4 linked regions of the Homo sapiens genome follow. The protein of the gene in region 3 binds, or shares a complex with, the protein of the main gene of each other region. Each region holds a gene or a part of one and is shown on either strand. Other genes may lie near its edges. The genes, in order: DPF3, PHF10, ARID1A and SMARCD3.

Evidence for each region.
Region 1: ARID1A (region 3) and DPF3 share a complex: the UniProt entries of both Homo sapiens proteins name them as parts of the neuron-specific chromatin remodeling complex.
Region 2: ARID1A (region 3) and PHF10 share a complex: the UniProt entries of both Homo sapiens proteins name them as parts of the neural progenitors-specific chromatin remodeling complex.
Region 4: ARID1A (region 3) and SMARCD3 share a complex: the UniProt entries of both Homo sapiens proteins name them as parts of the neuron-specific chromatin remodeling complex.

What each region holds. Positions count from the first base shown.
Region 1 is NC_000014.9:72,608,505-72,611,107, forward strand, and holds the end of DPF3 (zinc finger protein DPF3), read right to left. Parts: 3' UTR 530-2,603; downstream 1-529. UniProt on the Homo sapiens protein: Belongs to the neuron-specific chromatin remodeling complex (nBAF complex).
Region 2 is NC_000006.12:169,707,473-169,714,507, forward strand, and holds part of PHF10 (PHD finger protein 10), read right to left. Parts: intron 5,068-7,035; coding exon 4,914-5,067; intron 2,920-4,913; coding exon 2,764-2,919; intron 1-2,763. UniProt on the Homo sapiens protein: Involved in transcription activity regulation by chromatin remodeling. Belongs to the neural progenitors-specific chromatin remodeling complex (npBAF complex) and is required for the proliferation of neural progenitors.
Region 3 is NC_000001.11:26,691,489-26,699,044, reverse strand, and holds the start of ARID1A (AT-rich interactive domain-containing protein 1A), read right to left. Parts: upstream 3,031-7,556; 5' UTR 2,829-3,030; coding exon of another isoform or gene 2,642-2,828; coding exon 1,505-2,641; intron 1-1,504. Other genes in the region: translation initiation factor IF-2-like, read left to right, coding at 2,640-2,828, 3,080-3,766. UniProt on the Homo sapiens protein: Involved in transcriptional activation and repression of select genes by chromatin remodeling (alteration of DNA-nucleosome topology).
Region 4 is NC_000007.14:151,238,672-151,245,706, forward strand, and holds the end of SMARCD3 (SWI/SNF-related matrix-associated actin-dependent regulator of chromatin subfamily D member 3), read right to left. Parts: intron 7,001-7,035; coding exon 6,789-7,000; intron 5,031-6,788; coding exon 4,988-5,030; intron 4,173-4,987; coding exon 4,050-4,172; intron 3,933-4,049; coding exon 3,810-3,932; intron 3,562-3,809; coding exon 3,466-3,561; intron 3,308-3,465; coding exon 3,206-3,307; intron 2,983-3,205; coding exon 2,821-2,982; exon of another isoform or gene 2,493-2,820; intron 2,309-2,492; exon of another isoform or gene 1,852-2,308; coding exon 1,754-1,851; exon of another isoform or gene 1,639-1,753; coding exon of another isoform or gene 1,577-1,638; coding exon 1,441-1,576; exon of another isoform or gene 1,348-1,440; intron 1,082-1,347; exon of another isoform or gene 1,076-1,081; coding exon 953-1,075; intron 827-952; coding exon 725-826; intron 486-724; coding exon 432-485; 3' UTR 109-431; downstream 1-108. Other genes in the region: CHPF2 (chondroitin sulfate glucuronyltransferase), read left to right, coding at 1-10. UniProt on the Homo sapiens protein: Involved in transcriptional activation and repression of select genes by chromatin remodeling (alteration of DNA-nucleosome topology).

The sequences.
Region 1 (2,603 bases), on a different chromosome or scaffold from region 3:
TCCTGCACCAGAGGTCTCTCTCTCTCCCCAACCATATTCCCCCACCTCTCCTGTGAGTCATCTCTGATTCATCAACCTCCCTTCTCCTAGAAAATCTAGGGGGCTCCTTTCAGGATGCCCTAGGAGCTTCTCTGAGGGGTCTCCAGAAAAGGAGCTGCTCTACTCCTGCAGATGAAGCTCTCAGTTAAGGCCTGAAGCTATGCTGCCCACTGTGCCCATGAAAGCTGTCACGGTGACTGTGGCTTCCCTGGTGCTATGTATGACGTGGCCAGAAGCTCATCACCAGGCAGCAACTGAGACCTGGAATTTGTTGCTCCTGGAGTCTCCCTGCAACCATGAAAGCACTAGTGTTTCTCTGGAGCCTGATGCACACGCATGCGTGTTTCTCTCTCTCCCTCTCTCTCTTTCTCTCTCTCTTACACAATGCAGTCCTACTGCACACCCCAACATGAAAGGGCTCTACCCCCACAGGATCTCTACATTTGCAAGTGAGGTCCTAACTATCCGTAGGGAAAATAAGAGTTTCCAAGAGTTTTAAAGCCTTTTATTTGTTTACACATTCTCTAAATTGCAGACAAAAGATTCACTACGTGGGTAGTCAACATTGCTAACCAATCACAGAACAAGATACTAACCACAGCAAGGAAGGGGTAGGGGCTTGTGACTCAGTCTTTGAGAACGTGCGAGCATTCCATGGGATATCGAGGGGTCCCAAAGAAGAAGGCTGCTCGATCCCCACATTCTTCATCTCATCAGCGACAGGTCTCCCTCCCAGAACCCCATCAGGACAGGAGAAAAGGCAGCAAGAGAGGTGGGGTGGTCCTGGCACGTGGGCCACCAGTCTTCTGAATGAAGAGTGAGTCCCGGGTCAGGAGTCCACATCAGGTGTGGGCTGCTTCCAATCTGTAGGTTCTCCTGGAGATTGTCACAATCTGCCAGCTCTCTGGGAATCACAGAACCATCATGTCCCCTTAGGATGGCAGAAGATGTGGCACAGCCTCAATCTCCAACACTGAAACACTGAGAGAGCTTGATACGTTCCTTAGGCAGGGCAGAAACATCACAGCACTTCACGTTAGGAACCACGAAAGAGTGGGAACCTGACACACGTGGGAAGGGCACATCCCCAGAGGACAGAGGACAAGGGTGGCACACACACCTACAGAGACCGCAACCACATCACAGTGAAGGAGGAGGACAGCTAACGGGGTGGGAGGTGGGAGCTTTTTGTTTGTCTGTTGCTGTCGTTGCTTTTTAGAGAAGCCAGGGTGGGCCAAATGGAGATATTGTCTCAAGACCATTACACACAGCTTCCCAAATCTGTAGCCCTTTTCTGTAACCTCATGAAAGCTGTGTCAGACTCAGTCCTGGTCTGAAGTACCAAAGCAGCCCAAGGCAAAACCTCATCTGCAAGAGGCAATGCGGCGTTGGGTCCCAAGGATCAGTGGGGAGGGTGTTCAAAAGAGCAAAAAGGGAAACCCTCTTTCATAGGCATTTCTCTCACTGGAGACCCACTCTCTTGGTCATTCCTTTATGACTGAGAGTCTCAGAAGGAGTTGTGAGTGTGAGGTAAAAGAGACAAGCAAGCATTTTGGAATGATGGGGATAAAATGTTGCAGTGGCTTCCCTCTCTGGTGCCCATACCTGGAAGAAGCAATCCCAGGTTTGCTTCGTATCTGCAGGTCTAGAGACATCAATGGAGGCAGCAATTGGAGATCTCAGTGTGTTTCCAGGGTCTCTGACTCAACTAGAGGGCATCCAAGGCCTGGTGGAGCCTGTGCAGGCCTGAGCTTCCTCGTGGAGCAGCAGGTAGGCAGCTCATTCCCAGGGACCTGGTCATCCTTCCTACCATAGGAGCCACCTGCCAAAGCCCACCCAGAGGAATCCCAGCGTTCACAAATGGAGGCGCCCTCACCAAAGCCACTGGACCAGCCTGTCCCTGAGAAGAGACACAGAGGGGCTTCAGCAATGAGAAGAAGAAAACCAATTTCTTTTGGCTTCTTAGCAGAGATGCTCCATGTCTTGGCTGTCAGAGAAATTGAGCTTACAAATTGCCCTCACCCTGAACCCACTTGGCAACGGGGAGATGACCTGGTTGAGGTCTAGTTCTGGCTTTTGTGAATCGACCGTGTGACGTAGACAGCACAGCATCAGGCCAGGAAGGCGCCTGATGAGACCGTGTTCTCAGCCTGAGAGCGCGCTCAAGGGCAGGTGGGAGATGGAGCCTTCTCAGAGCTCAGCCACTGGCTCTTGGGCTCCCAGGTTCATCCCTCAAGGAGCTGGGGACCTGAGGGCTCAGGGCCCACCACTGGCTGCCTGGGGGAAGTGCTGCCAGTCTGGTGTGGAAAGGGTCCAAGTCAGAGGCCTTTGCCTCACCCCTTCCACCAGCAGGGCCATTCAGAGAAGTCTTGGCTCAAAAGAACGTTGCCCACAGGCTTTCAAGTAGGTGAGTGGACCAAACCCCTGCATGCTTTTCAGGCTGTCACGCACTTTAAAACCAGACTCACAGCCAAGCCTTGTGTCCCTGACTACCTCCACAGAGATCACCAGAATTCTCCTCACTGGGAGTCATGTGCCATCCAGGGCCCCAGAGGAGCCTTCCC
Region 2 (7,035 bases), on a different chromosome or scaffold from region 3:
CTAAATGTAAAAGATATACTTATTTAATACTAATAGTTTAAGTTAGATACTGGCATAGTAAATACTCTAATATCTTTCACTAAAGTCAGGGAAGTAACCAAACAATATTAAATTCTAAAAACAGAACTCCTCACAGGAGATTCTTTACAAAACAAAAGCCAAAAGGAGTAAAACACAAGGGTAGTCATTCACATTCTAGAGCAATTCAAGTTCTACAATCATTAAAATATACATTAAACACCTATGATAAAAGGGACACCAAAAAATTCTAGGTTTATTTCTAAGTTTAAATCATAATGATTTGTTAAATCACTTAGTTTTTCTTACCCAACAGCCTTCATCTTGATGAAAAGAGGGAAACATGAGAGAAGGGGAAGAGAGACAGCTTTGTAGCATTTTCTACGATGAATGCTGCAGCTCGATATACAAAGCATCTGCCCTCTCTAAGAAGCCACAGTGCTGGCATCCAGGACTTTACACAGCAGATAACAACTGTGGCTTAGAGAAGCCAGTCTCAAGTGGATTGCACAGTTGAGGGAGGGGTTAATGTGCAGCACTCTCCACAAGACCAATGGAGCACACTCCTATGTGTGTCTGGTTTAGACAATCAGTTCTACTTCAAATAACTGCAACATCATCAGAGTATCACTATTGACAAGAAAACTGAAATACTCATCCTAATAGCTCTCAGCATCTCAAATAAAAGGCTCACAGTACACTTACTTTTCTACTTGAAAAACAGCCAAAGATAAGACTTTCATGGTAGCAATAATATAGTATAGATTTTAATTATTGTATTTATAGGCCGGAATCCTAATAATTATGCTTTAAATTTCAGGTTAATGTAACCTAAACAATACTGTTCTATGAATTAAGGGCAAGCACTAGTGAATCTTATTAAGCAAAGCATCAGATACATTACTTCCTTGAATCTCGTACTTTTTATATATAAACTATGACCTTTAGCTTGAAGTACCCTAATATTTAGGCACATCTTGGTTTATTAATACTTTTTATAAAGAGGTTAACTTTTAATAAGCATGTTCACATTAATGTATGATGACTAGATACTGGTTGTTCCCATCTTTGAAATACCTGAAACATTTTTAGGTACTAAAAATGTTCACAGATTATGTAAAATATAAATTTTGCATATCCTACTTGAGTACTATTAAGTTCAGTTAATCCATATGATTTCTTGTATACTAAATCAATGATAGTGTTGAATAGCTGATTTCCAGCCTGTATTAAAACATCTATTTCAATATTCTCTCTTTTTAACCCATGATCAATCAAGCTTACTGTTGCAAAGATCTACTTAGCACTCAAGAGTTAACAGGACACTGTGCTTTGAGCGGCCACTTCCATTTAAAGCTCTTAGCAGACCAGTAGAACACACTCATTCATGTATACTGCTTCTGAAATTTCATCTTTGGAGCTCACTTGCTTTCAGTTATTAAGCATTAATTTATATAAAGAAATTACATAAGCTATATATGTAAAAACAAGTACAAAAATCACATAGCTGCAGCCTATTGCAGCCACCCTTGGAAGCCAACCCTTGCTGAATTAAGCTTAAAATTTGCTTGCTATAGGCTACAAAAAAAAAAAAGAATTTTTAAGTTAATTACATAAAAGCATTTCCTAATAAAATATGAAATACACTAACTTAATGTCGCTTTTTTTACTTGAAGAAAGGTAAATGAACATGTTAGAACGTGTTCTAGTTAGTTTGAGGGAAAGGTGACTTACTTCAGCCTGTTCTTGTGAATTATTTACCACAATCACAGTTCTGACATACAAGGTGTTTAACAATTTCACTTGGCAAAACTTTCTCATCAGCTTACTCTAAAATTTTCCTTCAATACACCTTCATAAGTGCAATAAAAGCATGTTCTAATACATTTCAGACCAAAAGAATCAAAAGGTAGTCTATTTTACTACCACCATCCCAAATATGAAACTGTACAGCTAATTCTTCCTTTTATGATATTCTTAAATCCCTATATGCAAATAAGGCTACTCATCTCTCACCTCACCTTTTCTTCAGAAGAAAAGGGAGGGGCAGACAGAGGGAGGAAAAGTTCAAAATATAATAATAGTTGCTGACAACCTACTCCTTTACTCTGAGGATAATCAGATCAACAAGTTAACAAGTATGTTTTAATTCTTGCCATAGAATCATATAGGCTCTTTACCAAGGTTATGCTAAAAATCACTACAATGTAAGTAACAGGTTTTATTATTTTCTATCCCAGAGTTAGCTAAATTTAGCATATGGATCAAATAATCCTTAGATTAAACCCAGATCTTTCTTAATGAAAGGCACTAAAAAAAATGCAACTTAGTCTAACAGTATATCCACTCATACTTTATAGCTCAGCAGCTTTAGCTACACTAAATGCTGGGGCATTTAAAATGCCAAATAATTATGATCTTTACTCCAAGGAAAGAAAATATAAACTTCTGCCTATGAAATAATGTTTTAAAAACCCATACTTGCCTGGTTATTCTTTCAAAGAAAAAAAAAGACTTATAAATTGTACATATACAGAAAACAGAAGGTAAACCATAGCCAAAAGTGACAGAAAAGCCACCAAGGAAATAAAGCAAAAAAGAAAGCAGCGGACAAAGGGCACACCATAGAAGAACAGCTAGTGAGGTACAGCAGGCAGAAGCTCCACAATCGTGAAAGTCAAGTTAAAATATTTCAGGGAGAGGCTGGTCAGTAAAGAAGCTGAGTCAGGGGCTTTTTTCTTCTACCTTGTACCCAGGAACTGACTTGGACAGTACAGAACGTTTGGGACCATCTTTTCTTGGAGTGGCAGCTTTGTCTTTTGATTTCTGTCTTCCCTGGAAAGAGTCCTCCTGGCTGTCAGGAGGGCTTTCCCCTTCAGATACATTGCCAGAGGAGCTGTCCTGGAGTTTAAAAGGCAAAAACAAAGATTCTTTGGAATTAAGACAAATTTGAGTCTGGATTTTGAAAACTATGGAAAATATTCAAAGAAAGTTTTAAAGCTTTATCATTTTAAAAATAAAAAGATCATTCTAAATGTAAGAAAGCTTTTTCCAGTGGAGACTAAAGTAAGTTATGTTAAAAATCATTCCTCCTTCTTCTAAGTATATTATATAAAACTGATTCCATATCAGTGCCTTCATCAACTTTGTTTTCTGACATAAGTCACAAAAACACAATTATCCGCTTCAGCTACTATTACGGCACACAGCTTCAACATCATTTTCCGTCACAAGGGAACATATTTGTTTCATACAAAAATATATTGTTACAAATAAGTGTGGGTATTTTCACTGAGTACTAAAAGTCATTAAGAAGGTCCTTCAGGAAAAATGAAGCGCTGCAGTTAGGAAAAAAAAAAAAAAGTCCTTCAAGTACACATTTGTGTTTTCACAATGTTAAACTATGCAGAGCCAATCCCTCAACTATCTACAACAGGATCTGAAATATTTTATATATTCAAGGTTTAAGACCTCAGTATCTGATCATTTAATTCTTCATTTTATAATTTAAAATGTTCTAATTAGAACTTTCATATAAATTACAAAAATTATAAATTAAAAAATTAGGTTATCTAGAGCCTCCCTGATAAACACACACTGACTAGAAACATGAATGTATCTACTTTATCTTTTTTCTGGGTGTCCACTTATATACATAAAGATACCGAGACTCACACATTACCCCCTACCTCATTGTGCCCTCATTTTTTAAAATACAAAACTGGATTACACTGTGTGTGTATGCATATGTGTATTTTGGTATTTTTTAAAAGCATTATGTGCATTTTCTCACAATCATTAAATATTCTTTGAACTGCATTTCTATCCTATAAATGTAATATAATATTACCCACTGTGGGCATTAAAATTTATTTGTAACTTCCAGCATAAAAAATACTGTCAACACTCAAATGGACCTTTTTTTCTAATTAAAATTTTTCAGCATCTGATTAAATCCTTAGGATAAATTCTACTAGTGGATTTGCTAGGTCAAATACTATGGAACTTAAATTGGTAAGACTGTCAAAATGCTTTCCCATAATGTTGGATTAGTTTACACTTTTCCTAGCAGTATGAAAGGAAGTCAGCTTCATCACCCTTTGCATGCCATAGCTCCCCTTTTAGCAACATGACAGGAGAAAAGTTGTGTCACCACTTTAATACTTGAACAGTATCTTATTTTGCATAATATGTATTATTAAAGATGTTTTAGAAGCTGTTGGTGACAAGGAAATAATGTCCATTCAATGGTAGCACAATCTCACATTTACATTGGCTTCAATGAAAAGTTTGAAATAGCCAGTTACTTAAAACACAATGCTAAAGAAATTCAAAGCCCTATGTCATCACTGGGATCAAAGCCCCAAACCATCATTGGGATTTTATTCTCCTTCAGGTGCACAGAATACACCAACTGCCCACTGTCTTGCAGGTGCATTTTGCTACAAAAAAAAAAGTCATACAGGAAAACCCAACAAATTGTACAACATATTACTAAACATAATATTTTCCTATAGGAAGCATAAGATTAAGCAAATGCACTCCCCTCAACTAAGAAAACTACATTTCTGTGTCAAGAGATCAAATTCTGTTTTGTTCAATATTTTAAGCTAAAGAGACAGCAAGTTGAATAAATGATTGTAAGCTAATTTTCCATACCCTTGCCTAAACTGCTCATGGTAACTACAAAGGGGCGATTTTAAGCATAAAGCTTACCAAAGGCCATTCACTGCTTGTTTTTATCAAAACATACTATAAGTAACTTTTATTGATGAATACTTTCTGGAAATTACATGCAACCATCCTTTTTCAAGGAGAGGGTGATGACAGAAATTCAATGTAACAAAAATTCAAAGAGAAAGGAAATGCTTCCTACTAGAGAGAAATGTTCTCACCGAAGTGCCTTTATTTTTCCGTTTCTCATCACCTCGACCATCTTCGCCATCATCTGAATCACCATCACTGTCTAGAGCAGGGAGCTCAGGATCCAGAGGGGGCTCATACAGGGCTGTGTTTAATGGCAGATACCGCAGCTCATCTGGTGAGTACCTGAAGTTCAGAGAGTTTATTTTTGGTTTCCCTTTATTATTAAATATAAACAGACTCATCTTTGACCTATGAAGATAGCCTTAAACTTCTTGAGTAACCCCGAAGACTTTTGAAAACTAGAGTACTAATTTTTCATTTTTGTCATCAAGTAGGGTTAATAAAAAGCCTGAACATCTTTTCACTAGACTTATGTAAAATATGCATTTGATTCTTACTAAGAGATAATGTGCCTCCCCTCTTTGCCCTCAACCCAAAAAAAGAAAAAAGTAAATAAAATGTCAGCAGCCCCAAGTCTGGCTGCCAGCTCACATCCACCTCGACCACTGTCCCAGGTCTTTGCTACTTCTCTGTGCTGTCACTCCATTTGTAAAACAGACCTAATAATAGCATCTACCGCATACAGTTGATATATATGCATTAACTTATTTAATGCATACATATCACACCAGTGCATGGTACATGATATTACTTAAAATAATAACATAGAAAGCAAAATTTTTAGTAACCAATTATTGTAAACAAATTTGGGAAGCATGTATTCTAACAAATTTAATCATCTATTTTGTCTGAAACTATATTGGCAATCTCTTCCCCTAGGTCAGACAGCACTGCTTCGTGCCACCTCCATTCTCACCCTCAGTAGCCCCCATTCAGGAGGCAACCCTAGATGAAGACTTCTCCAACTAAGACAACACACCAAAAAGCAAAGGGGTTAATATACTTGCATATGACTTTTAATAATTTGCTGATGCCAAAATAAAATTTTTAAAAATTAAAGGCCGGGTGCAGTGGCTCACGCCTATAATCCCAGCATTTCGGGAGGCCAAGGTGGGCAGATCACCTGAGGTCAGGAGTTCGAGACCAGCCTGGCCAACATGGTGAAACCCCGTCTCTACTAAATATACAGAAAATTAGCTGGGCAAGGTGGCGGGCACCTGTAATCCCAGCTACTCGGGAAGCTGAAGCAGGAGAATCACTTGAACCAGGAGGCAGAGGTTGCAGTGAGCCGAGATCGCGCCACTGCACTCCAGCCTGGGCGACAGCGTGAGACTCCATCTCAAAAAAAAAAAAAAAAAATTTGAAGAAAAACTTTTAAAAAATTGCTGCTCATGATTTAAATTTGAATTTAAAAAATCTTTTTTTATTTAAAAAATTTCTGCCCAAGATTTGACTTTCAAATGGTGTGAGTTATGATACTATATTTTAAATTCTATTCTCTAAAAAATAGTATATTATGAAAAACATACGGTTCCAGAGTAAGGCTTAAGGTTGAAGTAAAAGCTGAGACTTTAAAACAAAATGGGCTGGGCACAGTGGCTCACACCTTTAATCCGAGTACTTTGGGAGGCCAAGGTGGGCGGATCACTAGGTCAAGAGATCAAGAGCATCCTGGCCAACATGGTAAAACCCACCTCTACCAAAAATACAAATAATTAGCTGGGCGTGGTGGCATGTGCCTGCAGTCCCGCTATTTGGGAGGCTGAGGCAGGAGAATCACTTGAACACAGGAGGCAGAGGTTGCAGTGAGCCGAAATCACACTACCACACTCCATCCTGGGTACAGAGCAAGACTGTCTCAAAAAAAAAAAAAAGAATCTGTTAGCCCTGTTTTTTTCAGTTACATTTAATTTGGGAATAGGAGATAAGTAACATTTAGGGTCCATATTGGAGCAGCAGCCAGGCCAGGTCAGCAATGTGGCTGGGGCACCCAGTTGCCCATGCCTGCCCCTCTCCGCTCCTTCTCTCATCTTCTCTGCAGTAAAAGTCAGTGTTTCTCAAACTCTAACCTGCACATGAATCACACAGACATCTGTTAAAATGCAGACTCTGAGTCATAGGTCTAGAGTTGGGCCTGAGATTCTGCATTTCCAACAAGCTTCTGAGCAATAACAGTGCTTTGGACCACGGAACATACCCTGAGCAGTGAGGTGCTACAGAACCCCCAGCATCTGTCTCTAACAAACCCAA
Region 3 (7,556 bases):
AGCCTTTAGGAGAAAGTCCCTCAAGATCATGAAAGACACCAGCTTCCCTTTAAATTAAGCTGCTATTCCAAAGTTCAATTAACAAAAGAAAGTGTTAACAAGATTCAACATGTAAACAAAGAATGAGGCCAGTCTTCCTTAAAACAGACCGCTTGAACCTAATATAAAATTCCTCAGAAAGCTCCCAGTTCTAAAAAAAATAACAAAAACTGTTTTCTGGCCCCCCATAAAGATCCCACATTTGCCACTCAATAAAAAGCCCAGTAAAATCATTTCAATTCTGCAAAGCAACCAGTGTCAAAATTACTCAAGATAAATGCATCTTCAGAGCCATCAAAGAAGTCATTTATACCATCAGGAAAGTCACAAAACCAAAACAAACAGCAAACCCATTGTAGAGAAAAAACTCAGCTACTGTTCTGACAACACAGAATTCATTTCAGGCTGCATAAAACATAACAAGCAAAATAAATCCAAGGTACAAGCAAAATGCCATTGCCTCCTCTTTTGTTTGGGCACAATGTAACAAGGGCAGGCTGTCTGAGGCTTTGCTCTTGCTGATACAGTATTGCTACTTAAACCTCCCTCCTCAAGGTCACAGCCAATTTCAGCTCTGGAATAAAAGGCAGATAGTGGCAGCGATAGTTTGGGTTATCACTGGCAGAAAAGCAGAGTGTAAAAGTTTATGAGCTCATCAGGATTGTTGTACCATTACATCAGAGGCAATTATAAATGGCCAAGAGCAGGAGATGGGGAGCCAATCAGATCACAGATAGGATGTCAACCTAAGACCAACTGTCTCCTGGCTTTGACAGAAGGATTTTACCTCCATAATTCAAATCCCAAACCAAAGCAATCTGCACTTACTACTCCAATCACTCAGCTGTTTACCAGCACTTCCAGGGAGAAGCCCAGGCCACTGGGCCGGCGGAGCCTAAGACAGGAGATGGACCGGGCTGCCCTAGGTGAACCGCAGCCGGCCTCTAGCAGCTCCCAAGCAGTCCCCTGCCCTCCCCTCGAGGTCCCCTCGAGCTCTAGGGGCCCTCTTTGAAAGCACAGATGGGGGGCGGCCCAGAGGAAGGCCGGGGGACGGAGAGGAGCGGCAGGTGAGCAAAGAAACGTTCATTCAACTCCTGGGCTCCTACCACTGCCTACACTCCTAACCTGAGCCCCCAGCGCCCCCTCACCCCCTCACCCCCGGCCAGGCCCTTCCCCGCACACTCTGCCCCGCACCCCCATCAAGACCCCTGGAGTTCGAAGGGACCAGGGGAGAGGAAAAAGAGGAGCAGACACCTCTGGAAAAACCCAACACAAAGGCTGAAGGAGGGAAGGAGAGGAAGGCAGACAGGCAGCCATTTTAAGAGAGAAGAGCCAGACAATGGCAGCTCCCCAGCAGTGGGGGCCCGGGACTGAGGGGAGCCCAAGGCTGTGGCCCGCTCACCGCAGCCGCCACCCACCCCCAGGACCACGCTCGCCCCAGCCCCCTCCCCACTCAGCTGTGTACCTGAGGGGTCCGGGCGAGCGGCTGCCCCCCGCCGCCGCTGCTCCCGGGGCTCATGGGCGCGTGGTGGCTCCTTTGTTGGGCCCCTCCCGAGGCGGCCGCCGCCGCAGCTGCCGCCGCCGCAGCCCCCCAACACTGCGAGGCCATGTCCGCCGGGCCCTTGCCGGCGCCCCCGTCCTGGGGCCCGCCACTGTAGTCGCCCCCGGGGTAGCCCTGGTAGCCCCGGGCCGAGCTGGGCGACGTGAGCAGTTGGTTGAGGGTGGGGGTGGCGGTGGGCTGGGGAGTTCCCCCGCCGGCCGCGGAGGGGCCGCCTCCCCCCATGGCCCCGAAGCGCTGCTGAGCGAAGGACGAAGACGACGAGGAGGCGGAGGCGCTGGAGGAGGGAGGCGGCTTGGAGCCGGCAGCCGCCGCCGCGCCGGAGCCCGGAGTGCCACCTCTCGGGGAGCTCAGCGCGTAGGCCGGGGCGGGCGGGGGGTAGGCGCTGCGGTTGGGGTAGTAGGAGTTGTACTGGTGGTTGGGGAAGCCGTGGTCGTGAGAGTTCTGCTGGGGCCCCGCGTAGGGCTCCAGGCCCCCGCCGCCGCCGCTCTGCAGCGCTGCCAGGCCAGGGCTTTGTTGTCCGCCATGTTGTTGGTGGAAGACGGCGGCCGCGGCGGCGGCGACGGCAGACGGGCTCCGGCCGTAGGGTTGCCCGAAGCCGTAGGCTGGGGGCGGCAAGGCGGCCGCGGCTGAGTGAGGAGGCGCCCCCACCCCATCGCTGCTGCCGCCACCGCCGCCGCCGGGCGGCTCCGTGAGGTTATTGTTCAGGGCGGGCCTAGGGCCCGCGTTCCCGTTCGAGTTCTTCAGGTCCGGCTCCGCGCCGGGCCCGCCGCCGCTGCCGGCTCCGCCGCCGCCGCCACCCCCATTGCTCTCGGCCCCGTCCTGCAGCTCCTTTCCCAGCGGCTGCGGCGGCCCCACGGCGGGGCCCTCGCTTTCCTGCCCGGCGGCTGCCTTCATTTCCCCGCGCTCGGCCGCTGCCGCCGCCGCCGCCTCGCCCCCCGCCTCCTCCCGCTGCTGCTGCTCGGCTTTCTTCAGCTCCGAGGGCGGCGGCGGCGGCGGGTTGCCCAGGCTGCTGGCGGCGGCGGGGGCGACCTGCGCGGCCATGATCCCCGCTGTCTCGTCCGCGGAGAGACCCGGCCCTGTCTTCGTCTTCTCCCCCCCTCCCACCCCGCCCCGGGGCCCAGTCCCCCGGGCTGCCCTCCCCACCCGCCCGGGCGGGCCTCGCGGGGCTCCGCTGCTGCGCTGCGCTCGCTCCTCTCCCCCCCGCCCCGCCGGCTCAGGCTCCGGGCTGGCGGCGGCGGAGGAGGAGGAGGCGGCGGCGGCGGCCGAGGCGCCGGCGGCTCAGCTGCTCCCGGCTCTGTAGGCTCGGGACCCGGCTCTCCCGGCTCATTCCCCCCAAGCCCTTGCCTGGGAATGAGGGGGGCGGTGGAGGCTCCGCTCCCCAGGGCCTGGCCCCGCTGTGACTCTCCGCTTTCTGCTGCCGGAGAAAGGAGGAGGGAGGGAGGGAGGGAGGCGAGGGGGAGGGGGCGGGGAGGGAGGGAGGGAGCGGGGGGAGGGGGACCCGGGACGGGCGGGCTGGAGGGCGCGCGGCAGCAGCCGGGGCGCCGGGAGCCAGAGTCAGAGCGCGGGCCGAGCCCGGCGCCCTGCCTCCCCTCGCCAGCTGCGGCTTGGGTCGAGGCTGCTGCGCGGCAGCGGGCGGGCGAGCAAGCGGTCGGCCGGACTGAGCGGCTAGAGCGCCCCACTCTCCTCCGAGTCCCCCTCACTCCGACACGAGGCTCAGCACTGCCATTTTACCCAGCGCCGTCGCGGCCGCCTGGCAAACCCGGAGTGGAGAGCGGAGCGGGCGCAGGCCGTGGAACGGACTCGCTCCCTTCCCTTCACAAAGGAGGAGGGGAGAGAACAAGCCGCGGCGGCGGCAGGCCCTCAGCCGCTTTCGCTAGGCAGCGCCGCCGCCGAAGGCTTCGGAGAAAACCCGGCCCGGAGCCCGCGCATCTCTGGAGCCTGCGCCGCCTCCCTCCCGGCGTCCCTATCCAGGTCTGTCCCCTCCCGGCCGTACCGAGGGGAGCGGGCAGCGTGAACTTTACCCGCGGCTGCAAAATTGGCCAGAGCCTGAGACCGCGGCCGCCTCGGCCCAGCCCTGACCCCCTGGCAGCGGGCCCGGTCCGTTGGCTGCTGCTTAGCACCTCTACAGCACTTTTCGTCTTCAAAGCCTTCTACGGACCCCGCTAAAGACCCAACCTTTTTTACCCTCTTTGCAAGCCCGAAAGAATGACTGATCATTGTTCAGACGATTCGTTTCCCACTCGCCTGCCCTCATTAGCCGGTCCTTACAAGGCTCTGGGGGCATGAGGTCCGGATTATCCCCATTTTACAGAATTGAAAGAGAGGGGAGGGAACTGCCTGTCACTTAAAGTCAGAGGGCAGAGGAGGGTGACTTTAAAAAGAAGTGGAGTCACCAAAGCTGCCTTCGGTCTACTTGCCTTTAAAAAAAAAAAAATCAAGTTGTGAGCACATTCAACAATGGGATCAGAATATCAAAATGGATTTGAAGTCAAAACTGATCATCTCACCACTAACTTAAAATGGAGGCCACTGAAGTTGCTTTAGGAGCATAGAACAGTTACCCAGCAGGAAAACCTAAACACCGTTTCTCACTCCCTCTTAAGAAAACTTAGCCTACCATGACAAGTAGCCCCAGTCTCCAAAGACAGTACCTTCTAATACTGAAAACCCACAGAAGAGGCTCCAGGGACTGCAGGAACCTGAGTGTTCAAACCATTACAGAAGAGAGATGCAGAAAATGGAAACCATTTTCTCCTTGAAGAAAAGGCACAGTCCAACAAGTCACTTAGAAAATGGATGCTTGTCAGATTTGTTTTCTATCCTGTAGCGTAAAGATTGTTTAAAGTTTACCATTACATTCTAAGAGACCCCGATTGAGCTGGAGTTGGGTAGAAGGCCAGGTTTATCTGAAAAGATCGACATACACAGAAAGCTCCAGTGTTCTCCTGATCTACAGGCCCCACCAAATCCCAGCAGCAGCCTTTTCTTCCTCAGGCTGACTTGGAATGTTCTGATATGACAGGCTACAAAAGCCAGAGGGGATTCCAGCTCCTCACCAGACCCAAGGCTGCCTTGGGAAAGGCCCAGGCCAGTGTTCCTAGACACCAGGATCTCTTTTCCCCCTCAGATTTTGTAAAGGGAGACTTCATGGCCACAGGAGCATTATCTTAGATTATGCAGGACCCGGGAGTGCTGGCAATGTCCCTGGTCACTATGAATAATTCCAAAGCCTGAACTCATTTCTCTCCCCAAGAAAACTTACTGCATCCTACACCAGAAAGGCAAAACCTTCCTGTTAATCTAAGAGTGATGAGATTTAAAAAAAAAAAAAATCCCACAGTTTTATTCTTCTCCCCTCCCCCGGCCTCAAGCCAAGAACCAAACCAGCCTACCAAGAAGATCCGACTGACTGGTATGGGCCAGTGCCCTCTTTTCACTCACAGTCCTCAGGGGCAACAACTCTCCCCGGTGCATTAGGTCCTAGAAACCAAATTATAGGCTGCCTCATAAATAGAGCTTGGCTATTTAATCAACTGCCCCTGAGCTGGCAAACAGTCCTGAGTCCTGCACACAAATGAGGATTTTTTTACATGCCATTACTCTGCCATTTTCCTTAGAGCTGGGGTGTAATGGGAAACCTGGAGCCCAGTGAAAATCTGGAAGCTAGAATGGATTTCTCTCCAAAGAAAGCCCTCATCCCCTTTCTTCAATGGCTGTGAAATATGGAAAGCGCCAAAAATCTCCTTCCCTACACGTGGGCAAGCTGTTTTGAAAACAGTCACCATTTTTCTCTAGCAATAAGGTAAAGTGCACAAAAATCTATCCACCTGGGTTGGAGGAGATAATGTGGAATTTCTCTACTTTTTTTTTTTTTTAATTCACTAGGGTTCTCTTCCACTTTTACTTTTAGAGCCCCACACCACGATCCCAGGAAATGTTGGGCTGAGGGAACTTTTTTAGAAACTGGCCCATCAGCTTTCCCTAGGGGCAGTGGCAACGGGAAAGCGGGGGAGGGGAGGAGCTGGGCACGTGGCTGGCCCGAGCAGCGAGACCCCGGCTGGGGGCAGTGGGTCCTCCCTTCGGTGGAGTTTTTTCCCCCACGGCCCCTGCCTTTTAACCCCACACCCAGGCAGCTCAGGAATCCCGGCGCAGATTGGAGAACTAGGACTAGGACAGCGCTACCCTCGCGAAAGCACCTCGGCCAACAGCCTGATGGCAAATATGGACTGAATCGTTGACATGGAAACCGGACTAAAGTCTCGCTAGCTCTCCCTCACAGGAGAGTTCTTATCGCCGTCCCCGACCGCACGGCACTTAGCAAACGCGGACTGGATTTGAGGCCTGGAGGATCAGGCGGAGTTTCTGGGCGTATTAACTCCAGCGGCAGAGCAGCCAAGGAAGGGGGCAGGGCTGCCAGGACAAACCGGCTGAAAATGGCAGAGGATGTGCTCCCATTTTATCCGGCTGCACAGCGTGCATGGATTGGGCCCGAGGACAAGGGAACAACCTATTAAAATCCAGAGAGTCAACTGCAAAATGTGGAACCGAGGCCTGGAGGGTTTGCTAGGAGAGGGAAACGTTTGCAGGGAAGACAGCCCTTCCTTTCTCGCAATTTGCTTCCCCTAAATGTCTGAAATACAAAACTCAACAAACAAACAGAAGATCGGGCTCGGCTCCTTCCTCCACCCAATCCTTGTGGGAGAAGTCGTCTTAAGCCCAGGGACCCTAGCGAGGGTTTGCTTAGATTCCTAACTAAGGCGTGGAGAATCGCTGGAGCGCCAGGTTGTTGCCCCCACACGTTCCCGCCGCGGAACAGCAGCAGACACCCAGCAGAGCTCTCTCGAGTGCGAACTGGAGCTGCGAGTTTGAGCAAAAGGGCAACTATGTCAGTTGACGGAAGCCAGAAGCAGAGTTCAAAGCCTGGCGTGGATTTCCGTCTGGAGCTGTCTGTTCTTAAAGTTTGTAACTCCGTGTTAAGAAACAGCCCCAGCGGAGGCTTTGGGATCGGTGTGAAAGTCTAGCACTACCATCTGACAGCGAGCTGCAAAACTTTGGGCTGCATATTAAGCGAGGAAAGTGGATTGAAGCGAGAGTCAAGGCAATTCATTATGTTACCGGCTCCCATACGGGAGCTGTAAAATACGAACTGGATGCACACACGGAGAAAAATGGAATGAACTCGGAATGGCATTCAACAGCTCTTCGCGGTAAAACTGTGACTGCCAAGGATCTAGAATCCCAAAGGAGCAAACCAGGAGGCCTCAAACTTGGTTGGCACACAATAAATGCTTTTCTAGATCTTTTCCCCACTCATCTCAAACTCTTAAGCAATTTGGGGTCATTTATATTTCAGAATAAGGAACACATTTTGAGAAATGTTAATTTCTGAATGAGACTTTTTTTCCCCAAAGTAGCTGTGAAAAAAAGAGCCTCAGGCATAAGTCAGCCAGCTTATTTTGTCTCAATATAAATTAAAAATTACCCTCACCACCACCTCCACCAAAACTGAAATAAAAAATAAAATAAGTAAAAGTCCAGGCTGGTCTGGCTTGTGGCAGGTTTCAAACAAAAATAACACCCAGGGCCAGTCTAATATGAGGAAAAAGATACCAAGGCTTTCATATTCTTCTAAGTACAGCCTCACTCACCAGTCTCACTGGTGAGCTTGCTGACCAGTGAGCTTATTTTTGTGGAAAAGACTGAGTAAAGCTACTACTAATATTTTTTAAAAAAACAAAAAACAAAAAAACGGGACTGGGGTTTCATAAAACCACTGGGCAGATCAGGAAATTTGGATTTCTTATTTCTGCTGAGCTCATTGAAGATTTGTATTCACCAACTAATACAAAAAATACTGTATGAAAAACCTACTTAAAGCTTGAGCCGCGCGTGGTGGCGCACGCCTGTAATCCCAGCACTTTGGGAGGCCGAGGCAGGCAGATCACGAGGTCAGGAG
Region 4 (7,035 bases), on a different chromosome or scaffold from region 3:
TAGCACTTAGCCCGCCTGGGGGCCCTAACCTCATTACCTTTCCTTTGTCTGCCTCAGCCCCAGGAAGGGCAAGGCAAGATGGTGGACAGATAGAGAATTGTTGCTGTATTTTTTAAATATGAAAATGTTATTAAACATGTCTTCTGCCAAACTGTTTTTAGGTCTAGGGAAAATTGAGTAAGGAGAAGAATCCAAGGGAAGGGAATGGGGAGTCGTCCCGAGGGACCCACTGCCTCCCCACCTTCTTCCCTTCCCCTTCTCTCCCCCTCCCCTCCCCAGTTTCCAATGACCACACGGCTGCTGTCAGATGAATGACTTTTAATCCAGCCCCACACCCCAAGGTGGCAGAGGAGTGATGCTGGAGCCCGGGGCAAAATGCTGGGGCCCGGGACACGGCTGAAAGTTCCGTCGTGCTGCTTATTTTTGGGCTCCTAGGTGTTGCGCACAACCAGCGACTGCTCCAGCTCCTGCCTGCGCTGCTGGATCTTTAGAGGAAGTGAGAACAGGAGCAGGTGTCAGTGTTCTGGTGAGTGATCAGGACAATCCCACCTACTGACACCGCCTGCCCTGAAAGAGCATCTGGGAGCAGGGAGGGCCATTGCATGGTGAGGCAGCGTGGTGAAGCTTTACTGTGGGGAGCTGCGAGGGCTGCCCACAAGCTGAACAGGGAGGTTTCTCTTGGAGTTGAGGATGGGGAAGCCTCAGGGCAAGGGTCCCTGCATACCTTGCAGTAGAAGTAGCGACTGACGGCCTCCTGGGACCAGGGCTGGTGGTAGAACTCAGCCCGGCGCTCCTCTTCAGGGTTGCCGGCTACATCTGTCATCACCTGGGAGGGAGCGTGGGGTGAGCCCTGAGCCCTGAATCCCCTCACCTGCCCCTGGAGTACAACGTTTACTCTCTTTCCCGCTGTGCTTGTCTTCCACTCCAGTACTCCCTGAGTCTCCCTCTTCACCTTGAGGTCCCGGCTCTGGGAGCGGAGCAGGTCTTGGACATAGCCTTTGGGGTCTCTGGAGAAGCTTAGCATGAAGTCCCTCTGGATCTTGAGCTGGTTTATGGACTCAATCGTCTCATGGATCTGCAGGTAGAAAGATAGATGCTTTCCACCTGGCTTTGGTGATGTGGGAGACGAGGGGAAAGGAAGCGGGTGGGAAGGGGAGGGAGAGGGGGTTTCTTCTGTGAAGGACAACCCCTCAGAGCCCCTGATTTCTCTGAAGTCCCAGGGGAGGAGGGGATGGGCAGAACTAAACTTGGAATGAGGTTCAGCTCCAAGCAGCATGGACGGGCCATGTGTGTCCCATTGGCCCAGAGTCTGGTCTCTTTTTTTTTTTTTTTTTTAATTTAACCCAGACTGCTCATCTGCAACCACACCCTGGTCTCAGAAAAGTCTCCTCTATCATCTCTGGGTTAATGTCCCACTCCAGCTCTGGGCTTGGGCCCCACCTTACTGTCCAGAGCACTGATCTCCTGCTGGTTGGCCGTGGATAGGAGGAAGCTGCTCATCTGCCCCTTTAATGGCTCCTCCACCTCCACGTCAATGTCATAGCACGCCGTCTTCTTCTGGTCTGAAGGGTCCACGCTGCCAGGGAAGTCCAGCCCTTCGTGTCCACGATGCCCCCATACGGCCCCAGGGCCCCGGGGCTGGGGCAGATCCAACAGGGAGGGAGAAGAGATGGGAGTGGGAGGAGAGGGAGGGGCAGGGAAGGCAGGAACGAGATCATTCCCTGGTCTGAGAAGCAAGCTGGGGCCACCTCACCTGATGACATGGTTGATGACAATTGGGTCAGGGGGCAATAGCAGGGCTGTGAGGCGCTGGGGAATCTCAGAAAACTTCAGCCGGGGACAATCAAAAATCTGAAGCAGGACAATTGGGGAGAGAGAGATCACTCTTCTTGAAGAGATCATCATGCAGTTGTAGATCCTTTTGTTCTAGAAAGGCCACAAGAAGCTGAGAGGAAGTCTGATTCCTCAGTGCGCATGGGGATGGGATTGGGGTGGGCTGGTCTGGTGGTGGAGCCACCGGTATGGCTGACAAGATAGGGGGTGGGTCAGTGTGGGGCAGGGGTTGAGAGTGCGGGCCCTGGGTCAGCCTGCTTATGTATCAGTCCTGCCTCTGCCACTTACTATGCAACCTGGAGCAAGTTAACACCTCAGGGCTCAGTGTCTTCATCTCTAGAGTGGGGATGAAAAGAATACCTATCTCCCAGGGCTGCCGTGAGAAGTCAGTGAACTAATACACATAAAGTGCTTGGGACAGTGCCTGGCACATGGTAAGTGCCCAATAAATATCAACTGCTATTTTTACTCCTCAGGTTTATCTGCTGTATTTATTTTTAAATGCATTAATAAGAATATTCTCTGTTTTGGTGGAATTTTGCTCAATCACTTTTGCAGCAATTTGATTTTCCTAACTGCCCAGGAGAGTAGATAGGACAGGTATTGTCACTCCACTTCAAAGATAAGGAAACAAGGTTCAGAATCGCTGAGTCACTTACCCAGAGTCCAGACTCAGGACTAGAACCTGGGGATCCTAACTCCAAGTGCCAAGAATATTACATTCCAGAAAGCGGTTGGCTTTGTAGGGTTTCCAGGTCTTCCTAACTTGGGGGGGCTAACATGGATTGGCTGCAGCACAGAGCTAATCCACAGTAGGGCCTGAACTAGAATCCTGGTCGGTCTCTTGGCTCCAAGACCATGACTGTGTACTGCTTCTGCTACTCAGGAATCTAGAAGGGAGGGGTGGTAGTTACCTTGGTAGAGGTACTTCCCCTGCTGGAGAACTCCGCCTGCTCCCCAGATCCCAGGGTTCAGGAGAGAGGTTACCTGCTGGAAATACTTGTCCCCATTGATGTATTCCTTGTCATGGGAGTCCTGCAGCCTGTTGGTCTTCACATACTGCCACAGGGCCTGGACAATGGCTGAGCGGCTCTGTGTGTGCAGCCCCAGCAGCCGGGCTAGGCGGGGATCCAGTTTGAACTGGGGAGGCTGGGAAAAGGGGACTGTGAAAGTTAGACCAAAGGGAGAGAAAGGAAGGAGCCCAGGGCCAGGCCATTCAGGACTAGGGGGATGTGTTGATTGAGGAAACATGCCCCTGGGGAAGGATAGGTTTGGGAGGGGAAGGAGGTCTCTCAAGATGCACCACTTTGGGACCTAGCCCTGCCCTGAGGGCCTTGTGTGGCGTGTACGGGGCAGCATGGCAGGTGCAGACCTGGTAGTCCAGCATGAGGAGCAGCGTGCAGCGCACACTCAGGTCCCCAGGCCGTTTCACCTGGAAGCCGTCCGTCTCCTGGGTCGTGGGTGTCCGATGCCACTGTCCAGGAGAGAAGAGCTGTGTCTCCCAAAGGCCCATCTGGAGTGGTGGGGCCCAGGACTCTAGGGTGGTCCCTGACCCAAATCTGTGCTGGTTCTTCAGGGATTCTGGCCTGTGGGAGGGTGGCAATTCAAGGGCGGAGGGGCTCTTGGTCTTACCTCAACGAGGTGGTTGTCAGGGCCATAAAGATCTTTGTCCAGCTCGATGACCAAACTCTTGAAGAAAGAAGAGAACTTCCGCTTCTGTTTGCTGGGCTGTGGGAGAGCAACAGGGACCATGGGGGCAGAACAGGGACGAGGTGGGAGGAGCAGAAGGAGGCCAAGTTGGCAGCCGACAGGGCAGTGGGCTTAGATGAAATCCTCTGCACTTGGAATGTCTCTAGGCCTGCCCCTCCACCCAGCCTGGGCTGACTCCCTAGCCCTTAGTGCAGACACCTTGTTCTGTTCTCAGTGCAGCCCATGCCCACCCCAGGACACCTGGAGAGACCTGGGCCGGGACGTACATCATCCAGGAGCTTCCCCTCCACCCGTAGCTCCCAGGAGGCAATGCTGCCGTCGGAATCCTCAGCATCAGGCTTCGCAGGGTTAAAAGTGTTGGAGATATAGAGTCGCAGCTTCCGCTTTTGCTGTAGAAATAGAGTGCAGAACCGGGCGAATGCTGTGTGCTCCCACCCCGACCACCCTGCTTCCCCATCCTGGTCACACAACTCTAGAGTCCCCTTCCTACCCCCGAACTAAGGCACCTTCATGGGCCTCTTCAGAGCCTCCTGGATGTCCACCCGCTTCCGCATGATGGTTTGATCCAGTTTCCTCTCAAATGCCAAGAGGTCCATGTAAGCCTGGGACTCGGGGACCAGCTCCCGAATCTGGAGAAGGAGGAGCAGGGCAGGAGTCAGAGGCTCAAGTCCAGGGTTGTACCATGGAATGTATGCATGTTGTGCAATCCTAGGGTACAAAAGATGTCAGGGGAGCCATCCTACTTTTGGGCATGTAGCTTTGACAGTGGGAACAGGACCTCTCCCCAGGATGCCATTATCCAGCAGTAGGGGCCTTGCTGTGTAGGGATAACAATTGCTTCTCCCTTTAGGAAGTGCCTTGTGTTTCATCATCAGGGAGGAGGTAGCAACGGTGGAGCTCAGCAAGCACTAGCCTTTAGTCTCCTCATCTTGTCATTGTCCATATCATATGCCTGCTGGGCTTCCCCTGGGCCCCTGCAAAGTGCCTAGTAGGGGCTCAATCCCTGAGACAGTTGGACAGCGGTGCTTTCTTCTCTGCTGGCACCTTGCTCAGCCCCCACACCTGTCCCAACTGTGCTGTCCCCATACCCAGCTGGACCTGGGTCTCTTTAGGATGCTCAGGATCTCTGGCCACCTTCTATCCCCTTCATTCTGCCTGGCAGCTTCTGATCCCCTAGCTCTTGCCCCCTCCTGGTCCCACAGCTCTATAGTACCACTTGGATCAAACCCCCTGACAGGCCCCTGTGTTCTGGCCCCAGTGGCTCTGCTGCTTCCCTCCACCTCACCCCCTCCCTCTGGCCTGCGGAGCCTCACTTATTAATGAGCTTTTTTAAACAAAAAGTGAAAGTGACTGTGATGCTGAAGCTCTGCTTCTGAGGGGGGAGGGGAGGGCGGAGCAGCAAAGGGTGGGGGGTGGGCTGGGGGCTGCTGTGAAAGGCACTCACCCTTTGAGGGAGGATTTTGTCAGCCATCTTCCTCCTCTTGGCACTGTACATTTTTTAAAGAAAAAACCAGGTTACCATGGCGACAGATCTGGGCGTAACGAGGCCACCTGCTAGATTATCCCGACATCTCCGCCCGCCTGGCTGGGGTTCCCACAGCCCACTTGTCTGCCCGCCCAAGGGCTGTGACGGTGGTGTGTGGAACCGGTGCTCTGTCCTCTCTCAGGACACAGGAGTGACCCATCCATTCTCTGGCCTGGGAGCCCCCTTCTACCCTGCCACATCCTCAGGGACAGAGAAATTTAGACAGGAGGGACTGGCTGGTGGGGGCGGTGCTGCCAAAAGATGCGAGCTGCAGAAGTGTTTGAGGAAAGGTGGGGATGAGGGAGGACAAAGGAGAGGGAAGCCAGGTTCTGAAGACCTTTTCTGGAAAGCAGGGGGTGCCCTGTCCAAAGGGGCCTAAGCTCAGAGGGAGGGAGAGAGACGAACTCCTTCCTATCCATGGAGCGGGAGGTGACGGTGTGAAGCTGGCGGGACTTGCACCCCTTCCAGCCACCCTGGGCTTGGAAGAGAACGCTGATGGGCTGGGGGTACTCATGCCCTGGGACTACCTGGCAACAGGGTGAGGGACATGCTGCAGCCATAGGCGCCCAGAATGTGCATGGGTGTGACTTCAGGCTGAGGCCAAATTGACTAGGCCCGGGGTAGTAGCAGCTGGATGTGGGCTCTTTCTGACCCACTAGCTGCTTCTAACTAACCCAAAAACCCCCAGAAAAACCTTGGCGGGTCAAGAGATGAAAACGCAGCCCAGAGAATAGCTCCATACTGCCCCCGTGTGGTGTTCTCAAGCACTGCCCCCTCCCTATGCAGAAATCTAAGGCTAACAAGCGGATTTCATTAAAGGTCTGGTTTGTTTTAAACAGATTATCTATGTGTAACTCTCCATTTATACAAGATAAATCAGGGAATTACCATTTGCTGTACAAAATGACGATGCACTTTACTAAAGAATTCATCATGGGATTCCTATAAGTGGTGATTTTTTCCCCGATGTGTAAAAAATAATAATGAGGTAAAATTGATATTACACCTTTTATAGAAACCCATCTGTTGTGCAAAAAAAGCATGTGTATTTGGCTAAATACTGAAACCCGGAGGGGCACTGCTGTTGCCAGGAGCCAGCAGGGGCTTTGAGGGTGCCACCAGCTGCTGGAGGAAAGCAAGGAAATGGGCTGGCCCTGGTGGCTTGAGAGCAGACCTGGGCCAGAGTGCCTAAGAATTAAGAGCAGGACTGGGTAGAGACCACCTACCCACAGGGCAAATCCCCAAGCTCCACCCCCATGGTCAGAGAGTCCCATTGAGAAAATCTGGAGTGGCTTTGAAACAGCCCGGGGGCCGGCAGGAAGGCTCAGCGGAGAACCACACTTTGGGGAACACAGTCCTACACCTCTGCCCTCAGTCCCACTGGAAGCCCCGCCCCCACCCCAAAGACTGAAGCATCACCCAGAACCTGATGGGTGGAGAGAAGGACTGAGCAGGTGACAAGGAGAAGGGTGAGGGGAGCGTGCAGGGAAGCGGTACCGGCTGCCGACGCCGCAGCCTGTCTCTACCGTGGGCACACAAAAGAATCAGGCCGGTGCCCCCTAAGCCTACCTCCCCAGAGGGCATTCGACCCGGGAAGCCTCGCTCCCTGCTAATCATTCTTCCTCGCCCCTTCCAATCCCCGCTACTCGCTTACCTGGTCCCTGCGGGTCCCCCAGGGCCCGCCCCTGCACGCCCCCTCCTCGCCGGGCCTCCCACTCACCTGCGGCTCCGCGCGGGGGCGGTGGGCACCGGCTGGCCCTGGCTCTGTGCCTGGCTCTGCCCGGGCGGGGGCGCTGCTCGCTTGCGGGCGGGCTCCATGCCCGCGGGGGCCAGGCCGGGTCGCACGGCGGGGCTGCCCATGTACGGGGAGCCCGGGGGGCCCATGGGCGCCCCCTGGTGGGGCATCCGGGCTCCAGACGGCATCCCGGGGCGCTGGGGGTGGGCGGGGGTGAAGCAGAAACGGGCGC